2 separate regions of the Homo sapiens genome follow, and region 2 is linked to region 1. Evidence: fine-mapped expression QTL. A gene starts in region 1. The other region holds a variant in brackets. All regions are shown on one strand. Distances are from middle to middle.

Region 1 (9,771 bases):
AGGTGTTGTGCTAACCATTTAACCATCTTTAAACATCTTTCACTTACTCATCACTACAATTTACCACATAGGTACTACTGTCATTCCCATTTCACAGATGGGGAGATTGAGACTTAGAGAATTTAAGCAATTTGCACAAAGACACTCAAAGAGCAAGGGGTGGTGCAAGGATTTAAATTTAATCTGACACTAGAACCTGAGACTTAACTATGCAAGATGATTCTTCACAGACACATGACTAAGTAACACCAATTGACACGAACTGACATTGTTGATCACTCCTTCCTCCTTTAAACATTGTCTTCACCTGGCTTTTAGAAGACTGTACATTCCTGGACCCATCCTATGTCAACAGCTGCTTCTTCTAAGTCTCCACTGCTGGTTTCTCTTTCTCGCTCCCCCAAGTCACATGACTTGATTATCTAGGACATCCTAAAATACATAAAAACACCTCCCAAAAATTGCTCCTAGGAAATGGAAGGCATTTATCCATAGGTGCCCATTCCCCATTGGTGGATCATTGCCTGGGGGTGTTAATGCCACCAAACTTCCCAAGGGCCAGGTGTGTGTGTGTGTGTGTGTGTGTGTGTGTGTGTGTGTGTGTGTCAGGAGTGACGGCATCTCAACCCTATCTGAGCACTGTTCCTGAAAAGGATACTTGCTGATGTTCACAAAACAATGTCAGTGTTCTATCAGGCCAATTTCCTCCAGTTGATACAATATATGGTAGGACCAGTGGAATTCCATGGTCGTGTGTCATTGTCACACCTCTTTTACCATAAAGTGTGTCCTTTAGTTGGAGGCAATACATCAGAAAATCATGTGTTTGGGCTGGGTGTGGTGGCTCACGCTTGTAATTGCACCACTTTAGGAGGCTGAGGTGGGCAGATCACTTGAGGTCAGGAGTTCACAACCAGCCTGGCCAACATGGTGAAACCGTGTCTCTACCAAAAATACAAAAAAATTAGCCAGGTGTAGTGGCAGGCACCTGTAATCCCAGCTACTGGGGAGGCTGAGGCAGGAGAATGGCTTGAACCTGGGAGGCAGAGGTTGTGCCACTGCATTCCAGCCTGGGCAACAGAGTGAGACTCTGTGTCAAAGAAGGAAGAAAGGAAGGAAGGAAGGGAGGGAGGGAGGGAGGGAAAGAGAGAAAGAAAGAGGAAGGAAGGAAGGGAGGGAGGGAGGGAGGAGATGGAGGGAAGGAAGGGAAAGAAAGAAAAAAGAAAGGAAGGAAGAAAAAAGAAAAGAAAGAAGGAAAAGAGAGAGAGAAAGGAAAGAGAGAAAGAAAGAAAGAAAAAGGAAGGAAGAGAAAGAAAGAAAAAGAAAAAGGAAGGAAGGAAGAGAAAGAGAAAGAAAGAAAAAGAAAAAGGAAGGAAGGAAGAAAGAAAAAGAAAGAAAAAAAGAAGGAAAGAAAGAAAGAAAGAAAGAAAGAAAGAAAGAAAGAAAGAAAGAAAGAAAAAAGAAAGAAAGAAAGGAAGGAAGGAAGGAAGGAAGGAAGTCAATCAATCATGTGTTTGTAACTCTGTTATATAATGGTACTGGCAGAGGCACCATGAACAAGACCAGTCATATCAAGGGAAGTGTCAGTTCCGTAAGTACAAACCACGGCTCTCTCCAGGAAGGAAGGACTTTTGTGTAATTGCTCTCCTTATGGAATTTACCATCAATCTTTGCTGCTGATGGGCTGGACATCCAAAGAGGCAGTAGTCATATCGGCTTTAGTAAGAAAGAGCCTTAATTGTTGGGCCATGCACATGTCCTCCCCTTAATATCACTAAGAAAGTCCTTGTTGTCATCTGACTGCAAAGTAACCCACTTCCAGAGTTCTGAGGAGCTGCATTCTAGACTTTCTTCTTACATCAAATTTCTTAGCTTGGTTTCCCTCAAAACCTGAGACAACTACTTATGTGGGGACAGGTAATTTGGGATGTGATCCTAGTGAGAAACAATGAGAGAATGGAAGGGAGAATATAGACATAATACAAGAATGTGTTATTGAAGTTGCTGTTGTGAGAAACCAGAACCCAATTTCACTGGGACTTTTTGAAAAACACACAGAATGGCCTACAAAACTATCTTGCTCAAGTGTAAGAAGCAAGAGCATTTATCCATCAGTGACTGTCACCCCTTGGTTGAAGGGCCCCAGATGTGTTGACTTACCAGCACTTCAAAGCTGTGCAGGACAGGAGCTGAGAGAGCTACTGCTGGAATGTGTGAAGTCCGAAGAACCTCAGGGAAGAAAGCAAAGAGGCCTGGTAAATGTGGGAGAGGAGAAGCTGTCAGGGAGAAGAATGTGTAAGATTGCATGAAACTGCCCCCCACAACCAAGTCAGAAATGAGAGGTGATGCTCAGAAGATGTGAATCAAGACACCAAAGGTTTCTGATACTACAGAATTATTAATTTCTTAAAAATTTAAAACCAATTCATAGGACCAGGCGCAGTGGCTCACGCTTATAATCCTAGCACTTTGGGAGGCTGAGGTGGGTGGATCACTTGGGGTCAGGAGTTCGAGACCAGCCTGGTCAATAAGGTGAAACCCCATCTCTACTAAAAATACAAAAATTAGCCGGGCATGGTGACAGGCGCCTATAATCCCAGCTACTCGGGAGGCTGAGACAGGAGAATGGCTTGAACCCAGGAGGCAGAGGTTGCAGTGAGCTGAGATGTGCCACTGCACTCCAGCCTGAGCGACAGAGTGAGCCTCTGCCTCAATCAGTCAATCAGTCAATAAAAAACAATTCATAGCTGCAAGTCTTTAATTTTGTTTACCACGTGGTTATCACAGGAGTAAATGGGAAGTATTGTAAGAGAGTCGATATTTATTAAACACCTACTCTATAATAAGTACTACTCCAGATAGTCTCTCCTACATTTCACATTTGACATGTAAAAATATTTCACTGACATGGTAGTCAGAGAAGAGCCAGGTGACATTTGAGCAGTGACTGGAAAAAAATGAGGAAGCAAGCTCTGTGGACATCTGAGAGGGCAGTGTTCCATGCAGAAGGAACAACAGCTACAAAGCACTGATGCTTGCTGTGCTTGGGGGCAATTAGAAAAGCTCTGAAGTGTAGCTTGGATGTGATCCATCAAGAATAAGTTCAGTCTTAAAAGTCAGGGTAAGAATTTTGAACTTTAATCTGAGTAAAATGGTAAACCGCTAAAAGGTTCTGCACAGAGGAGTGGCATATTCAGGTTCTAATGGGATCACTCCAGCTGCTGAATGCAACTATGTAGAGAAATAAAGGGAATGCAGAAAGCTATGCTCACGGCTACTGCAATTGTCCAGGCATGAGCAGATGGTACCTTGTAACACCTCTTGTACCTTAAGTTGTTTTATACTGCCATTTACTTTCTCATGGAAACCCCTAATTTCTTCAGGACAGGGAGCTCATACGCATAGTTTACGATATGAGCTATACATATGCCCATTTAATAAATACTTGATAAATAACCACCATATAAATGGCTAACAGTAGTACTAAATTCACATTATACAGTGACGATATGGCATCACTGAAAGGTTTTGTCATTTACTATCTCTTTAGGAAATTTAAGTTCTCTAAGCCTTAATTCCAACATTCCTAAGTGTTGCTAACACCAGCCTAACAACGTTGGCAAGTATTAAACGAAAATGTCTACCCAGACCTTTTTTTCTCACCACCAAAGTAGGTGCCTTGCTTTCTTACAAACCCTCGATCCCAATACAAGACACAAATGCTACCCTTTCTGAAGAGTGCCTGTAAAATTTTAAAAGTTGTCCATAACTGACTGGATTCTAACATACATATTAATCCAATTCATCCCTTTCTGGTATTCAAGGCATGCTTTCAAAAATTGTCCATCTTCGTTACAGTAATATTTTCCTTAATTATTCTCTGAAAACAGCTCATCCCCAAACCGTCTTGGTTTTTACGTTATTACATCTCAGTGGTGATGGATGAGGCCCTAAACGCGGGGAAAACCTTTTACAAAAGTTTTGATGGCTGGTCCTCAAGCTTTGAGATTTACCTTCCAAGAATTAAGCAGCACTATCGAAACAATGCTGGCAACATTTTTATGAGGTTGCAAGGACCACGGTTGCTGCAGCTACAGGATGAGTTATAACGTCAGAAGCAACCCAAGCGTTACTTCAGGCCCATCTTCACCGGAGAAGCCCGTATGAATCAGGCAAAAACATAAAAACAGGTTCTGTGACTTTGCCGTATCTCATTTAGATCAAGTAGCACGCAGAAGGAAGACAAGGATTTTAAAATCTGGCTCCAACATTCTCCACTTGGTCGCGTTCTCAAATCTCAGCCCAGGGCCGCTGACGTAAAGTCGCCTCTCTCGTGGGCACCACGGGCTCGAGGGTAGCCGGCAGCTGAAACCCGAGGGGCTTCAGAGGCTTGGAGGCCAGGAGCAGGCAGAGCGCCGATGGGATAATGAGATTCTCCAGCAGATCGGCGCTCACCGACCTACTCCATTTCAGTGGGTAGAGGTAAAGGCTGAAAGGCGACCCTCGCACCGCCCGGCCCACCTAGGCAGTGCCGGCCTAGCGTCTCTACCCCATAGAGCATGCGCGGGAGGTAACGGCCCGCCCGCCACCGGCCACACAGGCCTGTCGGGAGGCGGGGCCACGCGTCTGCGCACGCGCGCAGGGACACATAGGCGGAAGTGGCCTGCGGGCGCCGGAGTTGAGAGTGCTTTCCGGGGAGGCGACCGCCGCGGTGGAAAGTGCAGGAGTGGGCGAGGAGGAGGAGGAAGAGGAGGTGATGGCGACGGACCAGGGGAGGGGGAGATGCTCCGTCTAGCTCAGACGCCACGCAGGCTGCCGTCACCCTTCCGGGTGACATACCGGCCTTGGGGTACGCGTGCCTTCGGGGCCTTTCCTGTGTTTGGGACCCAGATCTCCTCTCCTCCAGAAAACCTTGACACTGCCCATCTTCCTCATCCAGAAGGAGCGTTCGAGGAATGGATGAGGTCGGGATGGAAGAAACGGGTGATTCCCTTTTTTGAAAGAGCGGAAACCGGCCGGGCGGTTTCCAGGGAGGAGCATCTGTTCCTCCTCGCCCGTTTTTCGCCCTCGGGCTGGCGAGAACTCCCTCAGGTCCCAATCCGTGGACTCGCAGGGGTGAGGTGACCTCAAGGGGTCTTTTACGCTGTTCTCGGGGTCTCTGGAGAACTGTCAGTCACCTGGATACCTCTAGACTGTATTTACAGTTAACTGTTTCCTCGTTCCGTGTTTATTAAATAGGGGCACTCCAAGGTACTCTTTTCTCCATTTGGCTTGCAGTAGAATGTGATTGTTCTGGCTGGGCTATTAAGTTTATGGCATAAACTTCCACTAGAAGTTCTGCAAGTTTCCTCCAGTCTTTGCAACTGAATTATCTCTCCCGTCTTTTTATTATTTAAGGAATATTGAAAGTAAAAGATGGAATGATTTGGTGCGCTAACAAAATCTTAAGTGTTGAGTATCTGCATTTTTTCTACATTAGGATATCAGAAGCCTAGAATTGTTTTTTGATTAAACGTTTTTCTAAGTGAATTGAGATAGTTTGGAACTTGGAAGAGAGGCAGCATTTCAAAATAATTTAGACAGCGTTATTTTTACTTAATTACTTAATATATAAAGTCCTAGTGTTAACTTTTTCTCTTGGAAAAAAAAAAGAATAGTCTTCAAACATTAGCACAGGGTTTCTCCACCTTTGTGTAATGATGTGTGTACAAAGAAATGAGATGGAACTTTGTTTTTTCTGTTTTATAATCGTACACCATAGGCCATGATTGATTCCGGAGCGCAGTTAATCAAGGCATAATGGCATGGTAAGATTCTTTTATTTGTAACGTTGAGTGTGGCAAAGTATAGTTAAAATCACGTTTTTTCAGGTTAATGACACCGTAATGACTTTTTTTTCATATTCTACCTTTTTTTGGTGTGGGACTTTTGTCCTTCAGGTCGGAAAACTCAAAAATAAACTGAAATAATTGTGACTTCAATAGGTCATTGTAACTCAACATTATCACTAATTTTAATTTTTAAATATACATTGTATGCCGGAAATGCTACCTTTTTATTCCATTTTAGCAGTTGAAGTTGAATATCTGTGTTGAATTTAGGAAGAGGCCTCAGGCAATTATACACACCTGTGATTTTTAAAATATATATATATATATTTTAGTTTCACTGATTACTGTGAGCTTCAAAAGCAAAGCACAATGTTGATCATTTAGTCTGAAAACTAATTTTAATTCCATGCTTCATTTTTGCTCCTTGCATCACAAGGAGTTTGGCCCATTTTTTTTTTTAGATGATGGTTAGTATCAGTCATTAATGTTTGAAGTGGAAGGGATATGGCAGACATTCCCCAATGATCACAGTTATTAGGTATCAGAGGTCTTTATCAGTCACACTTTCTCACCAGTGATGTTCTTATTAATAAAACAGCATTCTAAATGCAAGGCTTTGGTGGGCAAGTTTTATGAGACTGATGCCTCAGGCAGAGGAAACAAATTTATTTTCATGTTCATTTCAAATGTTTTGTGGGGAGTTTCAGTAGCAATGTCGGTATTTTGGCATACATGTAGAAAAGACAGTGCTAGAGAGATTTCATTCTGCACATATGGCCTAGATCTGCAGCACATAAAGTTGCCAAGAAGTGTATTAGAAGTGGTAAAGTGTTGGAAAGGAGCTGAATAACGTTGATTAAATAAATGGTGCTTGCTAAACTGTGGTAGAGTCCTTCATTTAATCTTACATTTTTGTTATGTGCCAGAACATCATAGGAAGATATCTCTTGCCTTAAGGATTTCATAGGCTTTTAGGAGAAACAAGTATAAAAACGAAAAAGCTATACCATTATCATTTAGGAATTTGAAAAATATGTATAATATGATTGAGTCCAGGACATCAACTCGTTTTTAACTTCGAGGCCTTATTCATGGATGCAGCATGATCAGACTTCACGTTGAGCCATGTGACAGATGGGTCAGAAAGGGAAGAATTGATTATAAACAGTCTCGTAATCTAGGCAAGAGAAAATGGCTGCCTGATGGAGTAGGGTCCGAAACAGATATTAGATATAGTTATAGAGGTAGAGTTAACAGGAATCTTGGCAAAATATAGAATGTGAGGAAAAGGAAAGATTCTTAAGATGACTCCCAGATTTTTAGCTTGTGTTTCATACTAGGTACTGTTAAGTGAGATTGGGAATATAGGAACAAACAGTAGATTTGTTTTGAGGGGAAAATAATCAGCTTTGGCCATTTTAAATATGAAGTGCCAGCAGAGCTTATGAGTAGAGGTATCAAAGAAGCATTTAGACGTAGAGCTCTGGATCTCAGGAGAGAAGGCAGCGTTGGAAATTCAGGTCTGTATTTCCAGCTGCACATCAAAGGGGTGAGTCAGCTTGAGCACACCATATCACCCTAGCAATATTTCTAAAAAGTTGAAGGATGACAGCTAACACACTTATGGACTGTCATATGCCAGGCAATTTTACATTTATTTCATATAGTCCTAACCAAAATCCTGTGATAGGCACATTTTTAACTCCTCCCACTTTTGAAGGTGCAGAACCTAAAGCTCAGAAAAGTTAAACGATTTGCCCAAGGCTCCTCAGCTAATAAGTAGTAAAGCCAGATCTTGAACTCATATCTGTCAAAATTCCAAAGCATGGGGAAAGCATTATGCTATACTGCTTTCTTATACTATTACCTATAATTGTATTGAGTCATTACAATATGCTTGGCAGTTTACTAAATTACAAACATCTCAGAAGAAGGTGACTTTGGGAAAGCGTGACCTTCTGGAGAAATGTTTTGATGCCAATAAAAGCAGGAAAGAAAGATATTTTCTAGAAGTTTTATTTATTCTGTATGTATGTGTAAATATGTAAGCATTATTTGTAAATTTTCCCCACTCTTTTTCTATAAGATTTTCAGTTTTGCTCATAAAGTTTGCCAGTACCACCATCCATTTCAAAAATCGTATCCAAGCAGAAGGTGAGTGATTGCAAGCTGAAGTTTGAGGGTATCAAGAGGAAGGATCAGTTTATTTGGTTCATCTGAATATCAGGTCAGAGTATATGCCAGGTACCAAGGACACAGAGACAAATAAGATTTGAATCTTGCCTTTCAAGTTCTCTTTTCTAATAACTGGGGGGATTAGTGATGGTGTCACAAAGGAGGGGATATTAAAGCTGAACTTCCAAACCTGACCTTGAGAAAGAAGACCTCAGGCTGAAAGGACATCATGAACAGAAGGCAGCGGTGTTTTAAAGTCCCTGGTGTATTTCAGGAATGAAACATGGGTGGTTTAGGGCTTTATTGAGAGTGGAGGGAGAGCAAACTTAGAAACCTATGTAAGGCCGGGTTTATTTGAATGGTGCACTATATCCATGCTCACACATAGAAAAGAGTAAATTGTTAAGGTTTTCGTCTCTTCTACATTCAAGCACAGGTTTGACCAAATATTTAGGAGAGATAATTTAAAGCATGGTTTTAAAAGAAAGTCACATCTCAAAGATACCCTGCAAGATTACATAAAAAGTCTTACAAATGACAGTGATTGAAACATAATGTGGGAAGCAAGAACAAAGGAAAGTGAAGAATAAACAAGAGGAACACAGTAAACTTCATGAAACAACTTTTCTATTTAGAAATAAGGCAGGTGCCCTATAAAATGTTGTGGTGGCTGCATATTTTTAGTTACAAGTGGTATTCAGATCCTTGACCCCTCCTTTAATTCCTAAGGATGACCTGGTTAACCTCTGTAAATTAGCAAACTAGAAGTGATCATGAAGAGGCGACTCTAATTTTGGCCATTTTAAGCCATCTTGTAACAGTTTAAAAAAACATTACCAAAGGAAAACTCACTGTCAAAATTATTCTTATTTCTCTTCGTGCCGCAGAGTTTAAATTTTTGTTCCCACTGGAATTAAAAACAGATGAGTCGTTTCTAAGAAAATAACTTTTTCTTTTACATAGGTTTATTCTATACTTTGTCATAATTCTTCAGTCTTTCCTCAGTCTTTACATGGAGTTCATTTTTTCAGTTTATATAAATCCAAAGAGAAATTGATGGCTTCATAATTTTTTTTAGACTGACAAAAAATGACATGTTTTCTCCAGCCTTTTACATCCCAGAAGAATGTAAATTAAAATGATTTGTTCCAGAGGAAGAAAACATTTTTTAACCTAAGAGATGCTACTGCTGAAGCATATTGTGCTTTCTGTAGTCTCTGATAAATCTAGCTTTTTAAGGACCTTAGGTTTGGGGTTTCTTTGTTTTGTTTTTTTCATTTATTTTCTAGAGACAGGGTCTGGCTCTGTCGCCCAGGCTGGAGTGCAGGGGTGCAATCATAGATTACTGCAGCCTCAAACTCCTGGACTCAAGTGATCATCCTGCCTCAGCCTCCCAAGTAGCTAGGACTACAGGCATGCACCACCATGTCCAGCTAATTTTTTTATTTTATTTTATTTTATTTTATTTGGTAGAGAGAGGGTCTTGCTATGTTGCCCAGGCTGGTCTTGAACTCCTGGTCTCAAGCAACCTCTCTGCTTCAGCCTCCCAAAATGTTGGGATTACAGGCATGAGCCACCACACCTGGCCTTCATTTTTTTAGTTTATTTTTTAAATGTCATTAGCAAATATATCTTAGAATTGTCTTAGTATTTAAAGGAGAATTACTTATTTTTTACTCCTCTACAAGTGAAGATTGACTTTAATGTTGAGAATGTTATGCATCAACTATATATAGACACAAAGACATGTTTAGTTCTTTGATGA
Region 2 (9,771 bases), 140 kb before region 1:
CTGTCTGTAAAATAATAAAAAATTTAAAAAGAAGGTGGTATATAGTCTGAATGTGTGTGTCCTTCCAAAATTCCTATGTTGAAATCCTAATCCCAAAGTGATGGTATTAGGAGGTGGGGCCTTTGGGAGGTGACTAGGCAATAAGGGATCTGTCTTTAGAATGAAATTAGTGCCTTTATTGAAAAAAAACAAAAACGGAGAGCTAGCTTGTTTCTTCTACCATGTGTGGACACAGTAGAAGATGTCATCTGTGAGCTAGGCCCTCATCAAACACCAAATCTGCTGGCCTTGATCTTGGACTTCCCAGACTCCTGTTGTTTATAAGCTACCCAGTCTATGGTATTTTGTTATAGCAGCCCAAACAGACTAGGACAGAAGGATAATTCAGTCCTGTTATGCTCCTTAAGGATTAAAGAATTGCATGAATACATACATATTTTAAAATAGTTAATGGCAGCTCCACTAATAATTCACTATTAAATTCACCTAAAACTCCCTGAATATATATAATCAACAACACAATGTATTTCCCATTATTTCCCATGTGAAACGCTTATTGATGACATCATTAGAAGCAGACCTTATCTGTAAGTCTGATCCAATAGAAAAATATTAATGAATTGTTCTTAACAAGGACCTAATGCTTCGAAACTGTATTACGTCCACCAATATGGTACGATGTTCCAAAAAATTTACATGGGGTTGAAATTTTCTTTCATTTGTAGCTTTTGGCTAAGGCATGGATAAGGAGAACAAAGAATTCTTCAGAGTGAAGCAACAGGAGTATAAATGATCATCTGTTACTATTCCTTTTTAACCTATATTGTGAAGAAAGAAAGAGAGAAAGAATGAAAGGAAGAGAAAGGGAAGGAAGGAAGGAAGGAAAAAAGGAAAAAAGGAACGAAGGAAGGGAAAAAGGAAGGAGGGAAGGAAAGAAGGAAGGAAGACGGAAGGAAGGAAGGAGGGAGGGAGGGAGGGAGAAAGAGAAAGAGAAAGGGAGGAGTCAAAATTTTAAAAAATCCAACAACTTGAGCTTTAAATATACTTAAAAACTGGAATCATTAATCTATCTTGAGCTACAATATTTAGAAAGTTTTATTTGAAAAATAAAGAAAAGAGTGAAGAATACTACAGAATTCTGACTGCTTGAACTCCATTTTTATTTTTCACAAATCCATGTCTGGACTGGCCACTTTTAAAACTACTTTCACATAATTGACCTTGAAACTTTGCCTCTGGGGGAATCACAGGTCAATGTGTGAAGGAAAGTAATGAAGTTAAAGGTAGAAAGTGAATGTAGATGATACCAATGCAAATTTTTCTGACTCATCAAATTTTTTAAAATTCAGCAATATTAACTTACGATCTACGGATGAGCTATTTTACTTTTCACCCATTCACAGTGACTTTGAAAGGCAAAATTAACTAGATTTGAAAAGCTCTCCATTACTAAAGATAAGTTCCATTTGAAGCATGTGATCTCTGTGACCCACTCCCTATTCATACCCCCTCCCCTTTTGAAACCCCTAATAAAACTTGCTGGTTTTGCGGCTCAGGTGGGCATCACGGAACCTGCCAACATGTGATGTCACCCCCGGAGACCCAGCTGTAAAATTTCTCTCTTTTGTACTCTTTCTGTTTATTTCTCAGACCGGCCGACACTTAGGGAAAATAGAAAAGAACCTATGTTGAAATACTGGGGGCTGGTTCCCCCAATAAACTTATTCGATGGTAACTCTAACATGTTTGGTCAACCTTTTCTATTAAGCTGTGCTGAACAATACCCACTTAGGCAACGGTCTCCCGCCACCTCATTCCAATCTGCAGTGATGTCTCCAGATTTGTGATAACGGCAATAACACAAAACAGGCTTTCCACTGTTGTGAGTAAACAGCAGAATTCATGAAGAAGCAAACTGTTTACCCATGTGAGGTGAATGAGCTTTTCCTGAAGAGCAGGATTTAGTGCCCTCAAGGAGGCAATTTATTAAATGGAGCCAGAAATGTGTGCTCATTTTGCTGGTCTGAATAGAGCAAAGGCATCATCATTAAATAGTTACTTTAGGGCACCAAGATTTCTGTATCAGGTATTATGTAAACTTTATTTGTACGTGCACCCAGTCCTCCCAACCAGGAACAGCAACATGACAATATCTACTAGGCCATTCTGCAGGATAGTCATGTATTTACAGTGAGAGAGGAACAAAGGCCTATTCTAGAAGTCAGGACACCTTTGTTTGTGTGACCTACTGTGGGCAAAACACATAACAGTTCATTCATCTGTAAACATGGCGGTTAAACAAGATGATCGCTAAAATCCCCTTCAGTTCTAAAATAAAATTATTGATTCATTTTCCTCTCAATGTGTTAATTTATGTCTTCCAAATTGTATTAAAAACACTTTTATTTCAGTAATGCCTCTTCCCTATTCAGCCTAAATATATGCATAATTACCTTGAACTGAAACAAGATTTTTAGTGCAATATTCTCTTTCCTGTCTCTCCAAAGCATATGGAGAAACCAAAGCAATGCAAAAGTTGTTCTATGGCTGTGGCAAAAATCACTGAACAAATAATTTCCATGCCCAAATAACAAGAGTTGAAGCCAGTTAACTCATTTCTCACCTCCTCTATTTTCCGTCCCCAAAATAGATGATTACTTGCTTATTTTGCAAAGCAGGTGTTACAAAGTTTCCTGGACTTTGAGAAAAAAAAAAAAAACCCACAGATGAAAGTAAAACTTGATTATCTGTTTTTAAAAATGTGTAAATCTATTTTGGGAACTTGATGGACTCAGTCATCAGGTGTTTTGGAGAAAAAAAAAAGAGAGGAAGGCCTGGAAGTCAAGTCAGATTGACTTCAGATAAAATCCAACGTGAAAAATTTTAAACTATTATTGGAAAAATAAAGGAGCTATGTTTATGTGATTAGCTTCCATAAGTCCCTAGTGTTGTATGTCAGAATTCAGGATTCAGCCGCTTAGAATTCTATACCCTCTAATCCTACGTAAAAGTCATCTATGAACGTCTATGTCACCTACGCACTCCAAAAATATTAATTCATTGATTTCATTTTGTTTAGATAAAATTTTCAAAAAGACAAGGAATTATTATGCTTCACTCTTTGGACATGTACACAAGCACCCCAAACACAGCTAAGCTAGTACTTCTTTGAATATCAAAGATCTGCATTACTCCTCTTTGTTTCCAAGCACCTAACACTATGTGCAATAGATGATTTACAAAAATGCATTGCATGCAGAAGAATAAAGTATTTGATGTGCAGTTTTTTTAAGGCAGAGCAAGAAATGAACACTAAGAAATATAAAATATTTTTAATTTACTCGGTAGTCACTGGTGCCAGGCACTTTGCACATTTTACCTTTAATTCTTAAAACTACCCGCTGAGGCATTATCACCTCCATTTCCCCGAAGAGGACATTTCCAAGAGGTGAAGCAAATTGCTCACCATTATATCGCTAAGAATCGGTAGCTTGGTCTCAAGCCCTGTCTGGCTGGCAGCAATGCCTGTGCTCTCTGTTGCAGCCCAATTTCTCTTCTTAGTCACTGCTCAACCATAAGCTGTCCAACTTACATGTAACTTTATGAATACTGTTATAGAAAAGCATGAAGAAAACTGTGTTTTTGCTTCAGGGCTAGCTAATATCTTCCAACCAAATCTCCAACTAATAATCAGTTTGTCTCATGCCTGGGTTGTTTTATTCTGTTTTACTAAAATGTCTTTAAAATCTTTTCTGTCAGAGGAAAAGCTTATCTGAGAAGATAGACATATATAAGTACCAAAATATCAAATAAAAGGGCCATTAAATGTTCCACAGGTGACCTCTAAGCTACCCAGAGGAACAATGGGGGGAAGACGGAGGTTGGGAGAAAGGAAGGACAACTGTCATAGTCTTCCTAATTTAAGTAAGTCCTCAAAACTCAGCTCCTGAACCAGAGGCCTAATCACTGGAGGTCAGTAGACATATAAGTTTCCATCTTAATTAATTATTTGCCTGTAAGACAAGGCCTTGTGGCAGCCTGGGCTTCTCCCTCAGACTGGTGAGCTGGTGAAGGAGGTCACGGTAGTGACCAAGACCTCTCAGACTATGACTTGATGATGCTAGGCCCCACCTTCTCCCACATTTCAAATGCTTGTGTTGCCAAAGCTGAAGAATCAGGTTAGAGCTCCAGGGCTGACTCCATACCCAGCAAGCAGCATGCGGAGCGTAGCAGCTGTGGCCTTTGATCAGAGTTCAATCTTTTTACTGTATGTTCTTAAAACTCTTGTCATCAGGAATGGGGCCTGCTCATTGGAAATGGGGCCTGACTCTTATCGGCTGTACATCCTCCCAAAGGTTAG[C/T]GACTTTATCACAATACTTTGGCCATTCACTCCGAAGCAAGCCATATACTGGAATTTCTCATTTGCTCCAATTCTTCATTCATGACACCAGAAACTAACATTTAACTTCTTAAAAATAGTACTTAGAAAATATAAACATCCTTATTACTTGATCTTCTTTCTTCAGCTTCCAAGAGGAGATGATCATAAGTGAAATATGACTAATTTTTAACAATTCACTAAGCTTAAGTTTTATATTTAAAGCTGCCCTGCATACAGATGTATAACAAATGTCATATCCAAATTTGTCATAAATATATAATTAAGACATTTTCCAAGGATTGTGCAAACTGGTCTACATAAATTACGTCACAGCAAACCTAGGAGATAGTAATGGGGGAAAAAAAAGGCTGGGAGAGGTAAGCATGTCCAAAGTTGTGGAGCTATTTAAACAAACTTTGCAAATATCCATAACTAAGTAGATCACTCTCATATCCATTGAGACAAATTAATTGTATCTTCTGAAGTGGCAAGAACTTATCTGAATCATTATTTTTGCTCTGATAATATACTCATCTATATGATAGCCATTTGTTGTACGTGTCCAATTATATAGTCAAAGGTTTAAGGCTGTAGATTCTAATGAAAACTATGAAGTATTTCCCCAGAAAAAAAAAAAAGGCCATCCATGCATCTGCCACAGTTGTCTCCACAATTTCACGGTGCTGGAAGGGCTTCTGTAGCTTGTCTGCAGGCTTGAAGACCCATGTATTTTAGAGGATCATGAGCCCAGACTTAGAACACCTCCCACACTGTCTTACACTACTTCCTCTCTTTCGCAGGCTTTTGCCTTCCACACTTTTGGTGCTGGAGAAAAAGGCTAATGCTGAAAAAGGAAGACATTTGCTCTAAGTGTCTTTAAACTTTGAAACCTTTACAGTCTATGAGGCTATAAATACAGTTTACCAGGAAGCTTGTTTTTCCTTTTTATTATCATATTCTTTAAAATATAAAACCCAGAAAAGACATAACTGTAATGCGCACTCTCTGAGCCGTGACTTTGGTGAGCACTTGGGGAACAGACATGTCTTTATTGGATTGCCTTTGTCTCACAACACAAAAGGCACTGATAGCTCCAGGAAATCCAGATATGTCTGCGTAGGGTGTTTCATGCTGTAGATATTTAAGGAGGTGTGAAAGTGTACATTAGCACTCTTTTTGGAAGGAAAAGACTCTTCTTGCTTGAACATTACTAACATTTAAACATAACTTAGCAGACCAAAATTCAAGGCTATTTAAAATATGTTCCCTTGGTAAGATCTAAAGTTCAGTTGTAAATTTTTAATCTCAGTGTGAAATTCACATGTTATCTCACTTTATGCTCCCTCCTAAAATGCTTTAAATTCTAAACATTCTATTTCTTTCTGGGATATGTAGCAGAAATATCTTAAATCTAATCCTCTGTCCCATCCTTTGTGTCATATTTTGGGACTTTATAATATCTCGCCTGGGTTTTTTTAAGATAGCTTCCTGTCTCATAACTCCCTGACCAAGTCAGAGGGTATTGAAAGACATTAGCTATTTCCCTAATTATTAAATTTGATCATGTCAACCACTTGCTTTAAAATTCCTTTTGGTTCCTATCCCTTTCAGATTTAGACCCAAATTTCTTATTTTAGCTCTCAAGGCCCTTCCAATCTATTTCTGGCCTATTATCCCATTGGTAACTCTATCTAAACTCCTCTCCACTTCCATTAAGCCACCAATATGCCTCTAAATTCATTCCAGTATACTAAAGTCCTCATCATTTTTAAGCACATCAAGATCTGCTATAAAAGATATGGAATCAGCCGGGTGCAATGGCTCAGGCCTGAAATCCCAGCACTTTGGGAGGCCGACGGGGGCGGATCATGAGGTCAATATATCGAGACCATCCTGGCCAACATGGTGAAACCCTGTCGCTACTAAAAATACAAAAATTAGCCAAGTGCAGTGGTGTGTGCCTATAGTCCCAGCTACTCAGGAGGCCGAGGCAGGAGAATTGCTTGAATACAGAAGGCAGAGGTTGCAGTGAGCCGAGATCACACCACTGCACTCCAGCCTGATGACAGAGCAAGACTTCATCTCAAAAAAAAAAAAAAAAAAAAAAGATATGGAATTAACCTAGATGCCCACCAATGATAGGCCAGATAAAGCAAATGTAGTACATGTACACCATGGAAAACTACACAGCTATGAAAAAGAATGAGATCAAGTTCTTTGCTGCAACATGAATGGAGATGGAGGCCACTATTCTAAGCGAATGAACACAGGAACAGTAAGCCAAATACCGCATGTTCTAACTTATAAGTGGTAGCTAAACATTGAATACACATGGACACAAAGAAGGGAACAACAGAGACCTGGGCCTACTTGAGGGTAGAGGGAGGAAGGACAATGAGGACCGAAAAGCTACCTATTGGGTACTATGCTTATTACCTGGGTGACAAAATAATCTGTACACCAAACCCCCACGACACACTATTTACCTGTATAACGAATCTGCACATGTACTCTTGAACCTAAAATAAAACTTAAATATTTTTTAAATTTAAAAAATAAATAAATAAAGACTTGCCATAATAAGAAGCATGCTGTCCCTCCTGGGATATTCTTTCTCACCTTCATCAACTGAAGCTGCCTACTCATCTTTTAAGACTCAGTTCCAATGTCACCTCTTCTGAGGAGACTTTCATGAACTCCTCATATAGTTAGCCTATCTTTGTGCTCAATCCCATTTTCTTTGTAACTCTGTAAAAGCTAGTATCAGCCAGGTGTGGTGGTTCATGCCTGTAATCTCAGCACTTTGGGAGGCCGAGCTGGGTGGATCACCTGAGGTCAGGAGTTTGAGACCTGCCTGGCCAACATGGTGAAACCCCGTCTCTAACTAAAATACAAAAATTAGCCAGGCGTGGTGGCACACGCCTGTAATCCCAGCTACTCAGGAGGCTGAGGCACAAGAATCACTTGAACCCAGGAGGCAGAGGTTGCAGTGAGCCGAGATCACGCCACTGCACTCCAGCCTGGGCGAAAGAGTGAGATTTTGTCTCAAAAAAAAAAAAAAAAAGCTAGTATCATTGAAAGTTTTATGCATGATAATCTGTCTCACCAGGAAGACTACAAGGTCCTCAAAGACAGATGTATGTTATGTCATCTTTATAGAGCCTGCACCAGGCCAATGATTGACATAGCTTAGAAATTATTTGAATAATCAGTAATATAGTAGAGTGAATGTGAGAATAAATTTTTACTGTATTACTATCAATCCCTAAATTGGATGTAAATAAATTACAGTGAAAATGGCCATACTGCCCAAGGTAATTTACAGATTCAATGCCATCCCCATCAAGCTACCAATGACTTTCTTCACAGAATTGGAAAAAACTACTTTAAAGTTCATATGGAACCAAAAAAGAGCCCGCATCGCCAAGTCAATCCTAAGCCAAAAGAACAAAGCTGGAGGCATCACACTACCTGACTTCAAACTATACTACAAGGCTACAGTAACCAAAACAGCATGGTACTGGTACCAAAACAGAGATATAGATCAATGGAACAGAACAGAGCCCTCAGAAATAACGCCGCATACCTACAACTATCTGATCTTTGACAAACCTGAGAAAAACAAGCAATGGGGAAAGGATTCCCTATTTAATAAATGGTGCTGGGAAAACTGGCTAGCCATATGTAGAAAGCTGAAACTGGATCCCTTCATTACATCTTATACAAAAATCAATTCAAGGTGGATTAAAGATTTAAACGTTAGACCTAAAACCATAAAAACCCTAGAAGAAAACCTAGGCATTACCATTCAGGACATAGGCATGGGCAAGGACTTCATGTCCAAAACACCAAAAGCAATGGCAACAAAAGCCAAAATTGACAAATGGGATCTAATTAAACTAAAGAGCTTCTGCACAGCAAAAGAAACTACCATCAGAGTGAACAGGCAACCTACAACATGGGAGAAAATTTTCGCAACCTACTCATCTGACAAAGGGCTAATATCCAGAATCTACAATGAACTCAAACAAATTTACAAGAAAAAACAAACAACCCCATCAAAAAGTGGGCGAAGGACATGAACAGATACTTCTCAAAAGAAGACATTTATGCAGCCAAAAAACACATGAAAAAATGCTCATCATCACTGGCCATCAGAGAAATGCAAATCAAAACCACTATGAGATATCATCTCACACCAGTTAGAATGGCAATCATTAAAAAGTCAGGAAACAACAGGTGCTGGAGAGGATGTGGAGAAATAGGAACACTTTTACACTGTTGGTGGGACTGTAAACTAGTTCAACCATTGTGGAAGTCAGTGTGGCGACTCCTCAGGGATCTAGAACTAGAAATACCATTTGACCCAGCCATCCCATTACTGGGTATATACCCAAATGACTATAAATCATGCTGCTATAAAGACACATGCACACATATGTTTATTGTGGCATTATTCACAATAGCAAAGACTTGGAACCAACCCAAATGTCCAACAATGATAGACTGGATTAAGAAAATGTGGCACATATACACCATGGAATACTATGCAGCCATAAAAAATGATGAGTTCATGTCCTTTGTAGGGACATGGATGAAATTGGAAATCATCATTCTCAGTAAACTATCGCAAGAACAAAAAACCAAACACCGCATATTCTCACTCATAGGTGGGAATTGAACAATGAGATCACATGGACACATGAAGGGGAATATCACACTCTGGGGACTGTGGTGGGGTGGGGGGAGCGGGGAGGGATAGCATTGGGAGATATACCTAAGGCTAGACGACGAGTTAGTGGGTGCAGCGCACCAGCATGGCACATGTATACATATGTAACTAACCTGCACAATGTGCACATGTACCCTAAAACTTAAAGTATAATAAAAAAAAAAAAAAGAACATGGGAAAGAGAAGTAAAAAAAAAAAAGGAAAAAAAGAAAAATTTAGACATTTCTAAATTAATATTGCTAAAATATTTAAATATAGGAGAAAGGAAAAAGGGAAAGTTGAATTTATTTGAACCTTGTAGTCTCTAGACAAAGATGAAATATCACATTCTTAATTCCTAGAATTTTTTTCTTATTTAAGACACAAAACAACATTTTAGAAAAAGCAGCTTGGAATTTAAGAATCATAGGAACATTCTGGAGTCAATATATACAGGTAAGAAAGGAACTATGATAGTAATTCATTAAAAAAATGAAAAAAGAATAGGACTTCTCTCAAATCTTACAGGAATTTGTCCTTGCTGTTGCTGGATACAATCCTGGAAATGGATATTTATTATGGCCTTTTTTTCCTTCCAAAAGAAAGCAATTTAGTGTAAAAAGTAATGTTGAGTCTATTTGTGCCTGTCCACCTTTCGTTTGCTCCAAGATTTAGCCCC

What was found. PIP is the estimated chance that this variant, and not a neighbour inherited with it, causes the effect.
Region 2: its variant is the best candidate, but not a certain one, in a credible set for the expression of SLC35B3 in lung (TOPMed, PIP 0.58).

Annotation. Positions count from the first base shown.
Region 1 is chr6:8,430,421-8,440,191 of GRCh38, reverse strand. It overlaps SLC35B3 (solute carrier family 35 member B3), which reads left to right and starts at 4,647. Exons shown (of 10, transcript NM_001370479.2): 1 at 4,647-4,849. It overlaps LOC100506207 (a long non-coding RNA gene), which reads right to left and starts at 4,569. Exons shown (of 5, transcript NR_038980.1): 1 at 4,014-4,569; 2 at 2,161-2,252. RefSeq lists enhancers at 4,250-4,339, 4,420-4,499, 4,440-4,609, 4,810-4,869, 4,366-4,907 and 2 more.
Region 2 is chr6:8,566,071-8,575,841 of GRCh38, reverse strand. The region is part of intron 3 of LOC100506207 (a long non-coding RNA gene); the gene reads right to left. Among named protein-coding and RNA genes, the nearest start is that of HULC, 81 kb to the left of the region's middle. RefSeq lists an enhancer at 3,544-3,713. The variant C/T (reference allele first, on the strand shown) is at 4,361.